Linked DNA regions of Homo sapiens. The protein of the gene in region 1 binds, or shares a complex with, the protein of each later gene. Each region holds a gene or a part of one and is shown on either strand. Other genes may lie near its edges.

The links.
Region 2: CACNG1 (region 1) and CACNA1S share a complex: the UniProt entries of both Homo sapiens proteins name them as parts of the calcium channel complex.
Region 3: CACNG1 (region 1) and STAC3 share a complex: the UniProt entries of both Homo sapiens proteins name them as parts of the calcium channel complex.

The regions. Positions count from the first base shown.
Region 1 is NC_000017.11:67,054,469-67,057,329, forward strand, and holds the end of CACNG1 (voltage-dependent calcium channel gamma-1 subunit), read left to right. Parts: intron 1-634; coding exon 635-772; intron 773-1,576; coding exon 1,577-1,803; 3' UTR 1,804-2,329; downstream 2,330-2,861. UniProt on the Homo sapiens protein: Regulatory subunit of the voltage-gated calcium channel that gives rise to L-type calcium currents in skeletal muscle. Regulates channel inactivation kinetics.
Region 2 is NC_000001.11:201,039,409-201,046,426, forward strand, and holds the end of CACNA1S (voltage-dependent L-type calcium channel subunit alpha-1S), read right to left. Parts: intron 5,049-7,018; coding exon 4,920-5,048; intron 4,124-4,919; coding exon 3,873-4,123; intron 2,182-3,872; coding exon 2,096-2,181; intron 1,306-2,095; coding exon 1,214-1,305; intron 967-1,213; coding exon 823-966; intron 675-822; coding exon 423-674; 3' UTR 104-422; downstream 1-103. UniProt on the Homo sapiens protein: Pore-forming, alpha-1S subunit of the voltage-gated calcium channel that gives rise to L-type calcium currents in skeletal muscle.
Region 3 is NC_000012.12:57,242,940-57,248,187, reverse strand, and holds the end of STAC3 (SH3 and cysteine-rich domain-containing protein 3), read left to right. Parts: coding exon 1-62; intron 63-1,286; coding exon 1,287-1,384; intron 1,385-2,976; coding exon 2,977-3,043; intron 3,044-3,222; coding exon 3,223-3,272; intron 3,273-3,565; coding exon 3,566-3,651; intron 3,652-3,821; coding exon 3,822-3,873; intron 3,874-3,962; coding exon 3,963-4,100; intron 4,101-4,277; coding exon 4,278-4,376; 3' UTR 4,377-4,730; downstream 4,731-5,248. UniProt on the Homo sapiens protein: Required for normal excitation-contraction coupling in skeletal muscle and for normal muscle contraction in response to membrane depolarization. Required for normal Ca(2+) release from the sarcplasmic reticulum, which ultimately leads to muscle contraction.

The DNA of each region.
Region 1 (2,861 bases):
AGTACCAGGAGGGTGCGGTGGGCTCTGGGAGCTTTTCAGGATCCGCAGAGCTCAGACGCACACCCATTGTCGGGAGTACAGACCCGTGCCTGCCTGCGCCCAGACAGCTGCACACAGGGTGAGTGGGCAGACACACAGACACACACTGACACACACAGACACACACAACACAGATACACACACACGACACACACAAGACACAGACGCACAGAGACACTGACACACACGCATGATGACACACAAAATGACACACAGTGACACAGACACACACTGATACACATGCATGATGACACACAAAATGACACACAGTGACACACACAGACACACACTGACACACACGTACAATGACACAGACACAGAGACACACACTGACACACACGTACAATGACAGACACAGAGACACACACTGACACATATGCATGACACACAATGACACACACAGACACTGACACACACACAGATACACACATACAATGACACACACAAGACAGACACAGAGACACACACTTGACACACACACAATGACACACACAGACACTGACACACACACTGTGGTGCATGGTGTGGTCCCTAACGAGCCATGACAAGAGCTCCCATGCTGAGGCCGCATGCTGGGTGTCCCTTGTGTTTGCAGAGTACAGCATCTCGGCAGCCGCCATCGCCATCTTCAGCCTTGGCTTCATCATCCTGGGCAGCCTCTGTGTCCTCCTGTCCCTCGGGAAGAAGAGGGACTATCTGCTGCGACCCGCGTCCATGTTCTATGCCTTTGCAGGTAGACTGGGGGATCTGCCTGAGCGCCGGGGCCGGGGGACCATGTCGCGGGGGATTCTCCGCTCCACCCTCATGCCCACCGCGAGATTTGGGTGAGGGGCATTTCCCAGGCTCCATCCCCATCCAGGGGCAAACCTGGCCAGGCCATCAGCGACTCCAGGTGGGTTGGAGGGAGACAGAGCTTGGCGGTTTGTCCATTCCTCTCCACGACTCAACCCTCAAGGCCCCAAAGAAACTGCCCAGAGAATGATTAACAAAAGAAGGAAAGAAACGTGGTCACCTTTCTTTCTTTTTCTTGGGGGATGAGGAAGAGGGTCTCGCTCTGTCATCCAGGCTGGAGTGCAGTGGCACAATCACAGCTCACTGCAGCCTCGAACTCCTGGGTTCAAGGGTTCCTCCCGCCCCAGCCTCCTAGTAGCTGGGACTACAGACGTGCACCACCACACCTGGCTAATTTTTCATTGTATTTTAATTTTTTGTAGAGACGGAGGGCTCATCACTATGTTGCCAGGCTGGTCTCAAACTCCTGGCCTCAAGCGATCCTCCTGCCTCAGCCTCCCAAAGTGCTGGGATTACAGGTGTGAGCCACCACACCTGGCCACATGGTTGCCCTTCTGAGGGATGCAGGAATAGGGTGGTGGGTGGACAAATGGATCCTTCTGCAGGTTCCCATCTAGAACCTGCCTTGAGGCAGCTTTTCCCCCAAGGCAAGGTCACCGCCTCCTCCATGCACACAGGCTGGGATGGGGCTGGTGGCTACGGCAGACGCCCCTCGGTCCCTGAGCATGCCTGGCTCTGCCCCCAGGTCTCTGCATCCTCGTCTCGGTGGAGGTCATGCGGCAGTCGGTGAAGCGCATGATTGACAGTGAGGACACCGTCTGGATCGAGTACTATTACTCCTGGTCCTTTGCCTGCGCCTGTGCCGCCTTCATCCTCCTCTTTCTCGGCGGTCTCGCCCTCCTGCTGTTCTCCCTGCCTCGAATGCCCCGGAACCCATGGGAGTCCTGCATGGATGCTGAGCCCGAGCACTAACCCTCCTGCGGCCCTAGCGACCCTCAGGCTTCTTCCCCAGGAAGCGGGGTCTTGGCCTGGAACCTTCCAGAGAGGAGGCGGGAGCAATTTTAGCCCCACCCTGCTCCCATCTGCCCCCCTGCAACAGTCGCAGGCTGCTTCCTCTCTCTGAGTTCCTCTGGGCTGCCGCAGGCTCCCCTGGGAATAGAGCAAGACGTGAGTCCTAACCTGGCCACAGTTGGGGGAGGCAGAGCCAGCAGGTGGACAGGTGTTTGCAGGGGCCCAACTTCCCCTGGAGCTCAGAGGTGTCCCCACTGTACCAGCCTCTGATAAGCTGCCTCCAGTTGTCCTTTATGAACATTGCAGGGACAACCTGTGTTTGCCAGCTGGGTGTTCCGTGTAAATAGCCAGCCTGTCTCTTTCTCGGTGATAAAACACACCCTCTCTGGTGAGCCCAGCGTCCCCTCCTTGGCTTCCAGGAGCCCTGGGAAGCATTTTTAACTGGGTAGAATCTGACTGTGGCTTGAAATAAAAAGCTCTCAGAAAACTCATGCTTTCCTGGAGCCTTGCATAGAAATCGCTCGGATTCCCAGTCACATCAGGGGCTCCCCTGACGCCGAATGAGAAGGAAAGGCCGGTCACCCGGGTATGTTGAGGTCTTTTGTGGGGACAAGAGGGCAACGCACGTGGCTTAGAGGCTCTGAATTCCAACTCGTATCTCTAGGCCCTGAGATTGTTTTCGGGAGAAACTAGAAACCCTCTGATGAAGCAAGGGTGTTAAAAATAGGAGGGGTTATTTCTAGAGCCTGGCATGCAACGCACCTGGTGCCAACACAGCGCTAAAGCAGCCAGCCAGTGTCTGATTTCTGATGTTGGATTTTTCTTGTGAAGAACATCAGGAAGCAGGGCTTAGCAGTTAGACACTTAGGGCCACATGGAGAGCCATGATTTGCACTCTTCTGCCTTCCAAAACCCCGCAGTACTTGCCCAGGCTTCCAAAGTGGAGTTCAGACATGATCGGCAGATGGGATCCTTGCCTTGCACCCCGGAGAACCCACTGGAGTTCACGCTTCTAGGGC
Region 2 (7,018 bases), on another chromosome or scaffold:
AGCCCAGTCTCCCAAGCCCATGGGCAGGGTTCCTGGGGAAGGGACTGGGGAGGGGGAAACACAGGTGTAGAAGAGTCCAAAAAACTGGACAAGCAGAGGCCAGTTGCCAGTGTCACAGGCCTGGAGATTTTAATGTCCTGCAGGTGGGAGTGGCCCTAGGCCAGACAGGCACTGACCAGGCCTTTTTGAATGACATTAGAAGCTCCATCCAATCATGCCTCTTGCTGGTGAGGGGCAGGGCCTGTCCAGCTACTTCCTCCGCACTTTTTGAGGTGGTTCCTGACCACCCTGCCTCAGGCCATGCATCTAGCTGCTGAGAGGGAGGGAGGCTGCTGCGGTGGGCTAGCCCTTCTCCACCCCAGCAACTTCCCCACCCCCATTGGTCATGCCAGCTCTAAGCCCATGCTGATGCTGTGTGGGCATCACAGCCTTGGAGGAATAAGGGTCTCCTGGGAGCCCTGGTGTTGGTCGAGGCTGCCCAGGGAGGACCCGAGGTTCAGGCATCCCAGGGAGCTGGCCATGCCCTCTGGGGCCTCTCGTCCTTTCAGTAGCTCTGTTGCCATGATCTCCACTTCCTCTGGTTCCATTTGGCAGGCATCTGCCAGGGCCTGGCCTGTTGCCATGATGAAGTTTGCATCAGCTGCCAAGGTGCCCAGGCCCCCTCGAACCAGAGCCTGCAGGGAGGAGAGTAGGCTGAGTGGGGTCTTCCTGGGGAGCCACATTTGGGGACCTGCCTCTGTTGGCCCTACCCTCTCTCCACGCCAGGCCATCACAGGGCCACCACTCAATGCAGCCACTGCTGTGACCCAGCCCCTGGCTCACCTTTTGGATCAGCAGGGCTGTAGCTGGTGCTGAGCACCTGGAAGTATTCTCCCTGGTGCTCCTGCTGTGGGGTGTCTCCTCATGAAGAGACCCTGGTGTGGAGCTCTTTCTGTCCTCAGGCATGGAGGACTCCACCCTGGGGCACTGTTCCAAAGGTACAAAAGCAAAGACCCCGACAGGGGTGCTGGAGCCCACCAATGAGCAAAATTCCAGATCATCTGAGGGCAACTCAACCAAGATCCACAGAAAGGGGAGGATGGAGGGATCCCGTCCCTTCTGTACTGTTGGACACATTGCTGCCACAGCCTTCCCCTGCCATGATCCCACTCCAAGTATCAGGCCAGGCAGGGTCTCTGTATGGAGTTTGCTCCCAGGCCTCTGCCACTGTTACCTGGCAGGGGGCAGGAGGTGCCTGGCCTCTGGGCATTGCCCTCTGGGTCAGCAGTCCCTTCAGCATCTCCACACAGGGTTTGCTGTGGGGTCCTGTATGCAAGAAGGGGCAAGGATAAGAGGGGCTGCTGACTCCTGCCAGGAGCCCTGAGTCAACAGAGGCTCGCTTGGCTGGCTAGCCACACTCTGTGAGAGCTCTGAGATTCTCAGGGCTGCAGAAGGTGTCTTAGAGGGTGGACACATGATGAGGCCCAATCAACTCCAGGCCAGGCAGGGCTGCCCCAACTTTACTGGCCCTGGTCGCTGTTCTTGAAGGTTTGGGAGAGGGGATAAGGGCCAGAGTCTCTGGCCAAGCTGGTCCTCTGTGGTCCCTGGGTGTGTGCACATTAAAGTGAAAGTGTGTTGGGGAACACAGCAGTATCCTTATTGCCACTAGCCCCCAGCATCCTTGGGGCTCCTACTGTCACACAGCAGTCTAGGACATACTAGACTACAAGATCATTTGCAGAAGGGCCCCAGAGTCAAGACGTCAGTGTGTCCAGGGGCTGCCCTTCCAGGGACCTGGGGCGGTGTGGGGACTCCTGTGCTGGGGATGGTGTAGGGGGCTGTGTGAGTTTCCTGGGAGGCCTGCAGAGGGCCCTTTAGCATGAATGGGCTTTCCCCCTTCCACCTCACTCAGCCACCTAGATGGTGCCCTGCTTCCCCCCTGGACAAGTAGCTGGTCCTGATGGTTTTCCCATTCCAGGGCCCAGATGACTGCCATTGTAACAGGCTCCCAAGCCAGCCCTCCCAGCCAAGTTCCCAGACTCTAAGAAAAGAGTGGGGCTTCCCGGACTCCTCTGGGAGAAGACTCAAGCTTCTTAGATGCACAGAAGGGACTGACCCAGGACCCTGCAGGGTTGGCCAAGGGCTCGTCCTCTGGTAGCAGGCGTCTCTGTCTCTTCTGGGAACTCCCTTTCATAGTGGACACTGAAATGGAAGCAAGGCTGGGTGAACCAGAGAAGGCTGCTAGCTCTCTCGGCATCCCTGCCTCTCTGGCCCCAAACATCCTTTTCCCTCAGAGCCTGTACAAGGCCAACCTAGTGTAGCAGCCGTGACTCTAGGGCTGACGTTTCCACCACTGTGCCCCAGCCAGCCCTGACTCTCTAGGAGGAAGGAGTCCAGAGCATTCCTGACTCCACTCCTTTGCTCAGTTGCTCCCTCTACCCTTTCTACATTCTGTTCATCTTCCAAGGCCCAGCTGCAGCCTCCCAGCCTTTGGAACCCTGCTTCTCCATCTTGGCCACACATAGGATCACCTGAGGAGCTCAAAGGTGAGTGGTGGCTGAGTCCCACACCCAGCATCTGTGGTGAGGCCCAGGCATTGGGATTTGCAGAAGCTCCCTGGATTATCTAATGCACAGCCAAGGCTGAGAACCATTCTAGGTCTTTCCAGCCCATGGTGATCCATACCCCCTCTGCACTCTCAGGACACTAAATATCTGTTATTATTTGGTGTTTTTTGTTTATTTGTTTTGTTTTGTTTTGTTTTTTTGAGACGGAGTCTTGTTCTCTCACCCAGGCTGGAGTGCAGTGGCACAATCAGCTCACTGCAACCTCCACTTCTTGAGTTCAAGAGATTCTTCTGCCTCAGCCTCCCGAGTAGCTGAGATTTCAGGCATGCGCCACCACACCTGACTAATTTTTTGTGTGTTTTTAGTAGAGACACGGTTTCTCCATGTTGGCCAGGCAGGTCTCGAACTCCTGACCTCAAGTGATCCACCTGCCTAGGCCTCCCAAAGTGCTGGGATTACAGGCATGAGCCACCACTCCTGGCCTCTGTGATTATTTGGTCCCAATCATATCACATAACATATCACCCAACAAGACGACAACCCCCTTCAGGGCAGGGCCCAGGGCTGATGCTTCTGTATTTCCACGTTACCTTGCACCATGGTGACCCAAAAAGGTACATGCACCCTTCAAGGCTTGTGGGCTGAATTTAAGGGGTCTCTGTGACTGGAAGGGGTGCAGGCAGCCCTGGCCATGAAAAGGGGCTGGCTGCTGCCTTGTTCTGCTTATTCCTGAGGCCTGGGGCTAAGCCTTTCCAGGCCGAAGAGGCCTCCAATCAGCTGACCTCCTGTCTAGAACAGAAGCTTTGCCTGAGCCTAGCCCCTAAGTTATGATTGCTGAGAAGTTCTCCCCCTCATCCTGCTGTTTTTTATGACACTTACGTAATCACAGATTATATTTAGTCTACAGCCCAAGGTTGGTGAGATGGGAACCACCCAGCACAGCGGGATCTCCTTGGAACCTAAATCCAGTGATGGAATCTTATTGTCCACAGTCTTTTGTGGTATGTGCTACCACCGAAGATCCTCTCCTAACCTATCATGTGTTCAATACGTCTCAGCTCCTAGACTTGCTGAAGCCGACGGAATAAAAGAACCTCTCAACACTGGGGCCAATACTGACATGATGTGAGGCTTCCCCCTGCTGGCCAAAGAAGCCTCTGCCATCGAGGTCGGCCTCTTACATTAAGGTTCAGGATGGATTGGGGCACAAAGGCAAGCAAAAGACACCCTACAAATTTGGGGTACCCTCTTCCAATCCAACCTGGAACCTGCTGACATTGTCCTCCCAGTACCTCTACACCCAGGGATGGCAGTGGCCGCCACTACCTGGAAAACACATGGCTGTTGCTATGGTTGCTGTTGCCATAGGCGACATTGGCGTTGGCATTGTTGGTATTGGCACGAGCCAGGGGGTTGGTGCGTGGATCTTGTGGGAAGTCCTCCAAGAAGACAGGTGACTCCATCTCTTCCATCTCTATCTCAGCAAACTGGAGGGGTCTCTGATTGGCCATGACGGGGGGCAGGGAGTTGGTCCTTTCCAGGAAGTTGTCCACCTGGCCAAACAGGCCTCCAGTCCTCTAGGGGCAAGGAGAAGAGCAGTGACTGGGGGTGAGGGCAGGGAGGGCATGGGGGGCTGTCACTCTGGGACAGTGGTATTGGGAACAAGCAATAGTATTGGGAGACAAATCTTATAAGGCCAAAGGAGGATGGACTGAGTGGTGAGATCAAAAGAAGAAAATTCCCACCCTTAGAAAGTTCTTTGTTTGATGGGGTAGACAGCACACACCTAAGGAGGTATATAGGGGACACAGGCACACAGAAGAGAAGTGTGGTGTAGGGGAGAGAGGGCTGAATCGGGAGTCTGCAGCACTGGGTTCTAGTCCCCGCTCTGAAACTGATTTACTAGGTGATATTGGACATCTCACATGATCTCTGTGGGCCACTATTTCCTCATGAATAACCCAAAAAGACCTAACTAGGTGTCATTAAAGACCTTCCAGCAATAAAGTGTTATAAGAAACATGAGACAGAGCTAAGGATGGAGGACTGGCCTCAGTGGAGGCAGGCAGGGCATTTGATCCTGGAGGGCCTCTGGGAGATGGGTCGTTGCCTAGGGTTTGTGGGGAGGAAAGGGAAGGGGTGAGATTTGGTAGGGAAATGTGGGAAAGAGTGTGTTGCATTTGACACCTCTAGTAGATCAGGTCATTGATTCTGAGTCCCAGGAGAGGTGGGTGGTGAAGTGGAGAGACGGAGTGGGGTATCTTCAGCTCCCATGTCCCCCTCTCGTGTGGCTGGGCTCCCAGCCCTCCTCTCTGTGAGACACTGCCACTCATGGTGTCTAGACCACTAGGGGTGCTCCTGGCTCTCCCTCACCCGGAATATTCCCTCCTCCATCGCAGCCTCCACCATGGCTCTCTCCAGCTCCTCCTCAGCAGCCAGGTCTCCTGAGACCGTGCGACAGATCTCGGGGGCTGCCTCTTCCTCAATGGTCCGCAGCCCTGCCTGGGGATGACGAAGGGACTCAGTTATCTCTCCAGCCCAGGAGAGGAGACCAGAACCACTTTTTCTTTTTTTGAGACAGAGTCTCACTCTGTTGCCCAGGCTGGAGTGCAGTGGCACAATCTGAGCTCACTGTAACCTCTGCTTCCCGGGTTCAAGTGATTCTCCTGCCTCAGCCTCCTGAGTAGCTGGGATTATAGGCATGTGCCACCACTCCCTGCTAATGCTTGTATTTTTAGTAGAGATGGGGTTTCACCATGTTGGCTAGGCTGGTCTCAAACTCCTGACCTTGTGATCCACCCACTTGGCCTCCCAAAGTGCTGGGATTACAGGCATGAGCCACCGTGCCTGGCTAGAACCGCTTCGTATGGCTTACTTGTTTCTTATCACTGTACCCAGGGCTCTCCCAAAGCCCCAGCCTAGGCCCCACTCTCCCTCTTGGGTTATTGAATATCTCAGGTACCTGAGAGGCCACCAGGTCCTGCTCTGGCCTCTGGGATAGCCCACACCTTAATTGTTCCAATTGAGTCATCTCTTGACCCCATGGGTGGAAATTTCATGCCCTTCCCAGGCTTCCAGGTTGAGAAGTGTTCTTACTCAGTACAGTCTTCTAGATTGGTGATCTTTATTGATTGGATATGTCATATATATATAGTTGAGCAAAGTTAATATCACCAGTAATGGGACAAGTCAAGACTGGTGTCACCTAATAGCTTGTAATGAGAACACAGAATCATTTCTGTGGCATTCTTATCCAAGATGCATATCCTAGTAATCAGACAAACCCCAACTGAGGGACATACTGACCTGCAGTCTTCAAGTGTCAAGATCGTGTCAAGGAAAGACTGATGAACTCTTCCAGATGGAAGAGATGAAAGAGATAAGGCAACTCAATGCACTGTCTGATTCTGGATTGGATCCTTTTGCTATAAAGGACATTTACTGGGACAGCAAATGAAATTTGAATGGGGTCTGAGGATTAGAATGTAGTAATGTATTAGCCTGGCATGGTGACTCACGTCTGTAATCCCAGCACTTTGAGAAGCTGAGGCAGGCAGATCACTTGAGGTCAGGAGTTTGAGACCAGTCTGGCCAGCATAGCGAAACCCCATCTCTACTAAAAATACAAAAAGTAGCCTGGCATGGTGGTGTGTGCCTGTGATCCCAGCTACTCAGGAAGCTGAGGCATGAGAATGGCTTGAACCCGGGAGGCAGAGGTCGCAGTGAGCCAAGATCATGCCTCTGCACTCCAGCCTGGGCGACAGCGAGACTCTTGTCTCCAAAAAAAAAAAAAAAAAAAAAAAAGCATCAGTGTTAATTTCCTGATTTTGTGGTTATGTTGTGGTTACATAGAAGAATTATGCAGGATAACGCCCTTGTAATACACATTTTGCCTTGAATACACACAATGCCTTGAAATATGCATTAAAGTGTTTTTGGATGATGGAACATCATTTTGGAGTTACTCTCAAATGGTTCAGAAAAAAAGGTTTTATATTATACTTGCAACTTTTTAAAAGTATGAGATTATTTCAAAATAAAAATAGCCATTGAAATAAATTTTTGAGCACAGCTCAAATGCATGTGTATTTGGGGGTTTTATAAATTATGTGCATTACAGTGAACCCAAAAATAGAAATAAAACCAGATAAGATAAAACAAAAAGTTCTAAAGTTTTCTTTTCACACCCAATGGGACATATTTATTTATTTATTTATTTATTATTTATTTATTTATCTATCTTTTGAGATGGAGTCTTACTCTGTCACCCTTGCTAGAGTGCAGTGGTGCAATCTCACCTCACTGCAACCTCTGCCTCCCAGGTTCCAGTGATGCTCCCGCCTCAACCTCCCAAATAGCTGGGATTACAAGCGTATGCCACCATGCCCAGCTAATTTTGTAATTTTAGTAGAGATGGGGTTCTACCATCTTGCCCAGGCTGGTCTCAAACTCCTGACCTCAAGTGATCCGCC
Region 3 (5,248 bases), on another chromosome or scaffold:
CCATCGGGCCTATAGTTCCCCACTCTACAGCAACCAGCAGTACGCTTGTGTCAAAGATCTCTGTAAGTGCCCTTTATGGAACATGAGGGAATGGGCAAGCCTAGAGATGGTTTCATGCCATCTCTAGCTTTGGGAGCCAAATTCTGAAACAGAAACTTTCTGTTTCCCATAATTCTCCCTCAACCTCACATTTTTATATCCATTTGGATGCAGAGGCAATATCCCCATTTTACAGCAGAGGGAGATACGATTTAGTTGCAACTACATACAGTTAGCAAGAGGTAGAGCCAAGACTGGAATCTTCAGTTGCTAGCTTCAGAATCTGTGCTCTTTGTGTGCAAAATCATTTCTAAGCAAGAACAAGGATTCTAGATTGTCCTCATCCTTACTACAGAGTCATATCAGACTCGGGGCAAGACCCAAAGGCTGCAGGCACCCTGGGCAGGTTCATAATTTGGCAACCCAGGCCGGGCGCGGTGGCTCACGTTTGTAATCCCAGCACTTTGGGAGGCCGAGGCGGGTGGATCACGAGGTCAGGAGATCGAGACCACGGTGAAACCCCGTCTCTACTAAAAACACACAAAAATTAGCCGGGCGTGGTGGCAGGCGCCTGTAGTCCCAGCTACTCGGAGAGGCTGAGGCAGGAGAATGGCATGAACCCGGGAGGCGGAGCTTGCAGTGAGCCGAGATTGTGCCACTGTACTCCAGCCTGGGTGACAGAGCGAGACTCCGTCTCAAAAAAAAAAAAAAAAAAAAAAATAATAATAATAATAATAATAATAATTTGGCAACCCTTAAAAACATATTCATTGACAAATTTGCTCAACATTTATTTGGAGGAGAGGCTGAACTCTGTGAAGAGCATGGGTGAAAAAGAAGAACCTATTGGTGGCAGCACCTCAGCTTACACATGCCATTTAGCAGAACAAAAGCCAGCAGTTAAGGGCCCATTCTCCTTAGAAGGAGAATAGTGATTCTGCGCATGTCTCAGCTCCCAAGCAAGCAAAGTTGTGTTTCAAACATCATATAATGCTCTGCCTGGAAGGAGTTCTAATAAATACTTTCCTCCCTCACTTTACATCACCAGTGATGTTTTTAAAGTCCTTTATAGATTGGTGTCCTGGGTATTGCCTAGCTGACCCTTCCCTAATCTTCCCCGCGGCGCCCCCACCGCCACCCAACACACACATGGGTATCCATCTACTCAATCCCACCTCTCCCTTCCTTTCCTCCAAGCCTTTCTCTGCCTTCCCAATAATGTCTTCTTTCTCCTCCCATTCGATTAGCTGCTGCCAATCGCAATGATCCTGTGTTTGAAACCCTGCGCACTGGGGTGATCATGGCAAACAAGGAACGGAAGAAGGGACAGGCAGATAAGAAAAATGTGAGCACTGTACCTCCCCACGAGGTCCCTCCCAGAGATCCCATGGAGCAGGTCATTTTCCCATTTGGAAAGCTGACAGAAGTAATGGATTGTCTTCCCCTAAAATTGCACAAAACTCGGCCAGGCATGGTGGCTCACGCCTGTAATCCCAGCACTTTGGGAGGCCGAGGTGGGCAGATTACCTGAGGTCAGGAGTTCGAAACCTGCCTGGCCAACGTGGTGAAACCCTGTCTCTACTAAAAATACAAAAATAAAAATAAAAAATCCGGGTGTGGTGGTGCTCGCTTGTAATCCCAGCTACTTGGGAGGCTGAGGCAGGAGAATCGCTTGAACCCGGGAGGCAGAGGTTGCAGTAAGCCACTGCACTCCAGCCTGGGGGAGAAAGTGAGACCCTGTCAAGAAAAAAAAAAAAGGAAGGAAGGAAGGAAAGGAAGGAAGGAAGGGAAAAGAAAAGATAAATGTACATATCTGATCAAAAAAATCAACTGCAAAAAACAACTAGAAATCTGGCCTCAAACTTGTTGATATGGAGGTTGGACACAGATAAGGGATTTCTATGGAGTGAATTAATGACTTGTAAGGCACTAGCAATGTGATATGGCTGCTTCCAGAAGGGCTAACATACTCTTGGGTTATATTCTTTTAAGGGAATTATAAAAATTGTGCTGCTCTTTTTTTTTTTTTTTTTTTTTTTGAGATAGAGTTTCGCTCTTGTTGCCCAGGCTGGAGTGCAATGGCACGATCTCGGCTCACCGCAAACTCTGCCTCCCGGGTCCAAGCGATTATCCTGCCTCAGCCTCCCGAGTAGCTGGGATTACAGGCATGTGCCACCATGCCTGGCTAATTTTGTATTTTTAGTAGAGAGGAGATTTCTCCATGTTGGTCAGGCTGGTCTCGAACTCCCGACCTCAGGTGATCCGCCCACCTCGGCCTCCCAAAGTGCTGGGATTACAAGCATAAGCCACCGCGCCTGACCATGCTGCTCACTTTTTACTTACACACTGGAGTATTTTTAAAGGCTGACAGCATAGTCAAGGACCTGGAATCTGGTAGTGAATTCCCTGTTATTTAGCTACATTCAAGCAGAATGTGGGTGACCCACCTGATAGGATGTTTTAGGGAAAGTCCCTGCATGGCCGGGCACAGTGGGTCACGCCTGTAATCCCAGCACTTTGGGAGGCCGAGGCTGGTGGATCACGAGGTCAGGAGATTGAGATCATCCTGGCTAACACGGTGAAACCCCGTCTCTACTAAAAATACAAAAAATTAGCCGGGCGTGGTGGCAGGCGCCTGTAGTCCCAGCTACTCAGGAGGCTGTGGCAGGAGAATGGCGTGAACCTGGAGGCGGAGCTGGCACTGAGCCAAGATTGCGCCACTGCACTCCAGCCTGGGTGACGGAGGGAGACCCGTCTCAAAAAAAAAAAAAAAGTTCCTGCATTAGGCAGATGGCTGAACTAGATATTTCCTCCAAGGCCTCTTCCAACTCTGAGATCTCTGAGATCCCATTATTCTATAGTTCTCTGACCTGATTATAGACAGCCAGGGCATGTGTTCCCAAGACAGCGTCTCCCTAACTCTGGTGCCCCCTCCAGCCTGTAGCAGCCATGATGGAGGAGGAGCCAGAGTCGGCCAGACCAGAGGAAGGCAAACCCCAGGATGGTGAGTGTTACCCACCTCCATCCAGAGATGGAGTAGGATCAGAGGCTCAGCTGTGGAACAGAGGGTGGAGGAGCAAAGGGCAGGCCAGCTTTGGATAGACGAGGCCCTTCCACAAAAGGGTAAGAGAATAAGAATTGCCCTCCAGGAGACAGACAATTTGTTGGTGTTTCCTATCCCAGGAAACCCTGAAGGGGATAAGAAGGCTGAGAAGAAGACACCTGATGACAAGGTAAGAATCCTTCCTCCCTGCAAGGAACCCAGTTCTCTCCCCAACCCAGCTCTGACACCACTACTCATGGCCCTGGCAGAAGCTCACTCTTTAACTCCTAGGCTTCCCATCACTTCTGACCCACACTCTCCATCAACTTGCACACCCACCCACGACCAAAACACTTCTCTCAGTTCAGGGACCTAGAAGAGAGTTGGAGTGTAGAGTGTGTGGTGAATGTCCCTGCCTTGGAATCCTGCCCCTCAGTGTGGGGTAGAGGAGCCCTAAGACTCATCATTCCCTTGCACCCCCAGCACAAGCAGCCTGGCTTCCAGCAGTCTCATTACTTTGTGGCTCTCTATCGGTTCAAAGCCCTGGAGAAGGACGATCTGGATTTCCCGTGAGAGGCCTTGGGGCAGGGGGCTGGTACTGCGGAGTGAAGAGGAAAGAGCTGGGTTCCCCCAAGGGAAAGGAAAAGGGGGGACTCAGGGCTTGGAGCCTATTGATGCTGGACCCGGGGCACAGCAGGGGACCTGCTATGTGAGTGAGGCCCCTCCCTTCCCCTCCCAGGCCAGGAGAGAAGATCACAGTCATTGATGACTCCAATGAAGAATGGTGGCGGGTGAGAGAAATGGCTAGGGCTAGGGTGGAGTGTGGGTTGAGTCCAGAACCCGACATTGAGAGATGGACTCTCCCTACTATCTTCCCTAGGGGAAAATCGGGGAGAAGGTCGGATTTTTCCCTCCAAACTTCATCATTCGGGTCCGGGCTGGAGAACGTGTGCACCGCGTGACGAGATCCTTCGTGGGGAACCGCGAGATAGGGCAGATCACTCTCAAGAAGGACCAGGTAGGCTGTTGCCCCAACCCAATCCCAGGCCTGAATGCTCCCTAGCCCACCACACTCCTTGGAGAGCTTAACCATTAATAAGACTAGGGTGAGCCCCTGTAAACCCCGGCTCCCCTGCTGTCCTCTCCTACCTTTTCCTTTGATTCCTCTCCTACTTCTGATCCTTTAATCTTCTAGATCGTGGTGCAGAAAGGAGACGAAGCGGGCGGCTACGTCAAGGTCTACACCGGCCGCAAGGTGGGGCTGTTTCCCACCGACTTTCTAGAGGAAATTTAGGCGTGCGGGCGCCTGCAAGCGGGAGACACCCACACCCCATTCTGGGCGGGCCCAGTGGAGTTTGGGGAGGGGGGCGAAAGCAACGGGACTGCTGGGAGAGGAGGGGTAGGAAGGCCCGCCTGAGCGCGACGGGGCTTCCGGGAAGGGACTGGTTCTCGCCCCCTTCCCCAGCCTGGGGCCTCGGATACCTGCTGCCCAGAGCAGCCCGGACCCGAAACCTTTCAGGCCCCGCTTGCAAGAGCTGGAAAAAAACGCGTATCTACTAGGAGGAGCCAGGGACTGGGGCGGGGGGCGGGGGCGAGGGAGGGCGAACTGTCGAATGTTGCGAATTTATTAAACTTTTGACAAAACTTAGAAAAGTTGTTATTTAACTGGGGTTGAGGAGAGGGCCTGCGGAGGGGTGGAGAATCCTCCCTAGCTGTCCCGCCTCGTTACCATCGGGTAACCTGAGACCCATCTGGGCTGAGGTTGGCGGGAGGTGGGAAGTGCGCCCGCCAGGTGAGGCCTCTGTAGTCAGTAAAGAAAGGGGAGCGCAGGGCTGGAGTCGCCGCCCCCGCGCCCCAGCGGTTGGGAGCAGGATCTTGTAGTAGGGTAAGTCCCCCCTTGCTCTTGGCGATTTAGCCGCAGGCAGCCCCTTGCATTTCGGAATCTGGCTTGGCGCCGAGCTAGGCCGCCAGGGGGCGATGCAAGATCTCGGTTGGAGAGCGAGGGATGGGGAGGGGGTGGAGGGTGGGTAAGGGGAGACAACCAGAGACACCAAGCCCGAGACCCTGGGCCTGGGAGGGGGTGGGGTGCGTGCCGTCTCCATGGCAACACTTCCTCAAGTCCTCCGAGAACCGAGCTAGCTAGGCCGGGGGCCTAACCCCACCCGC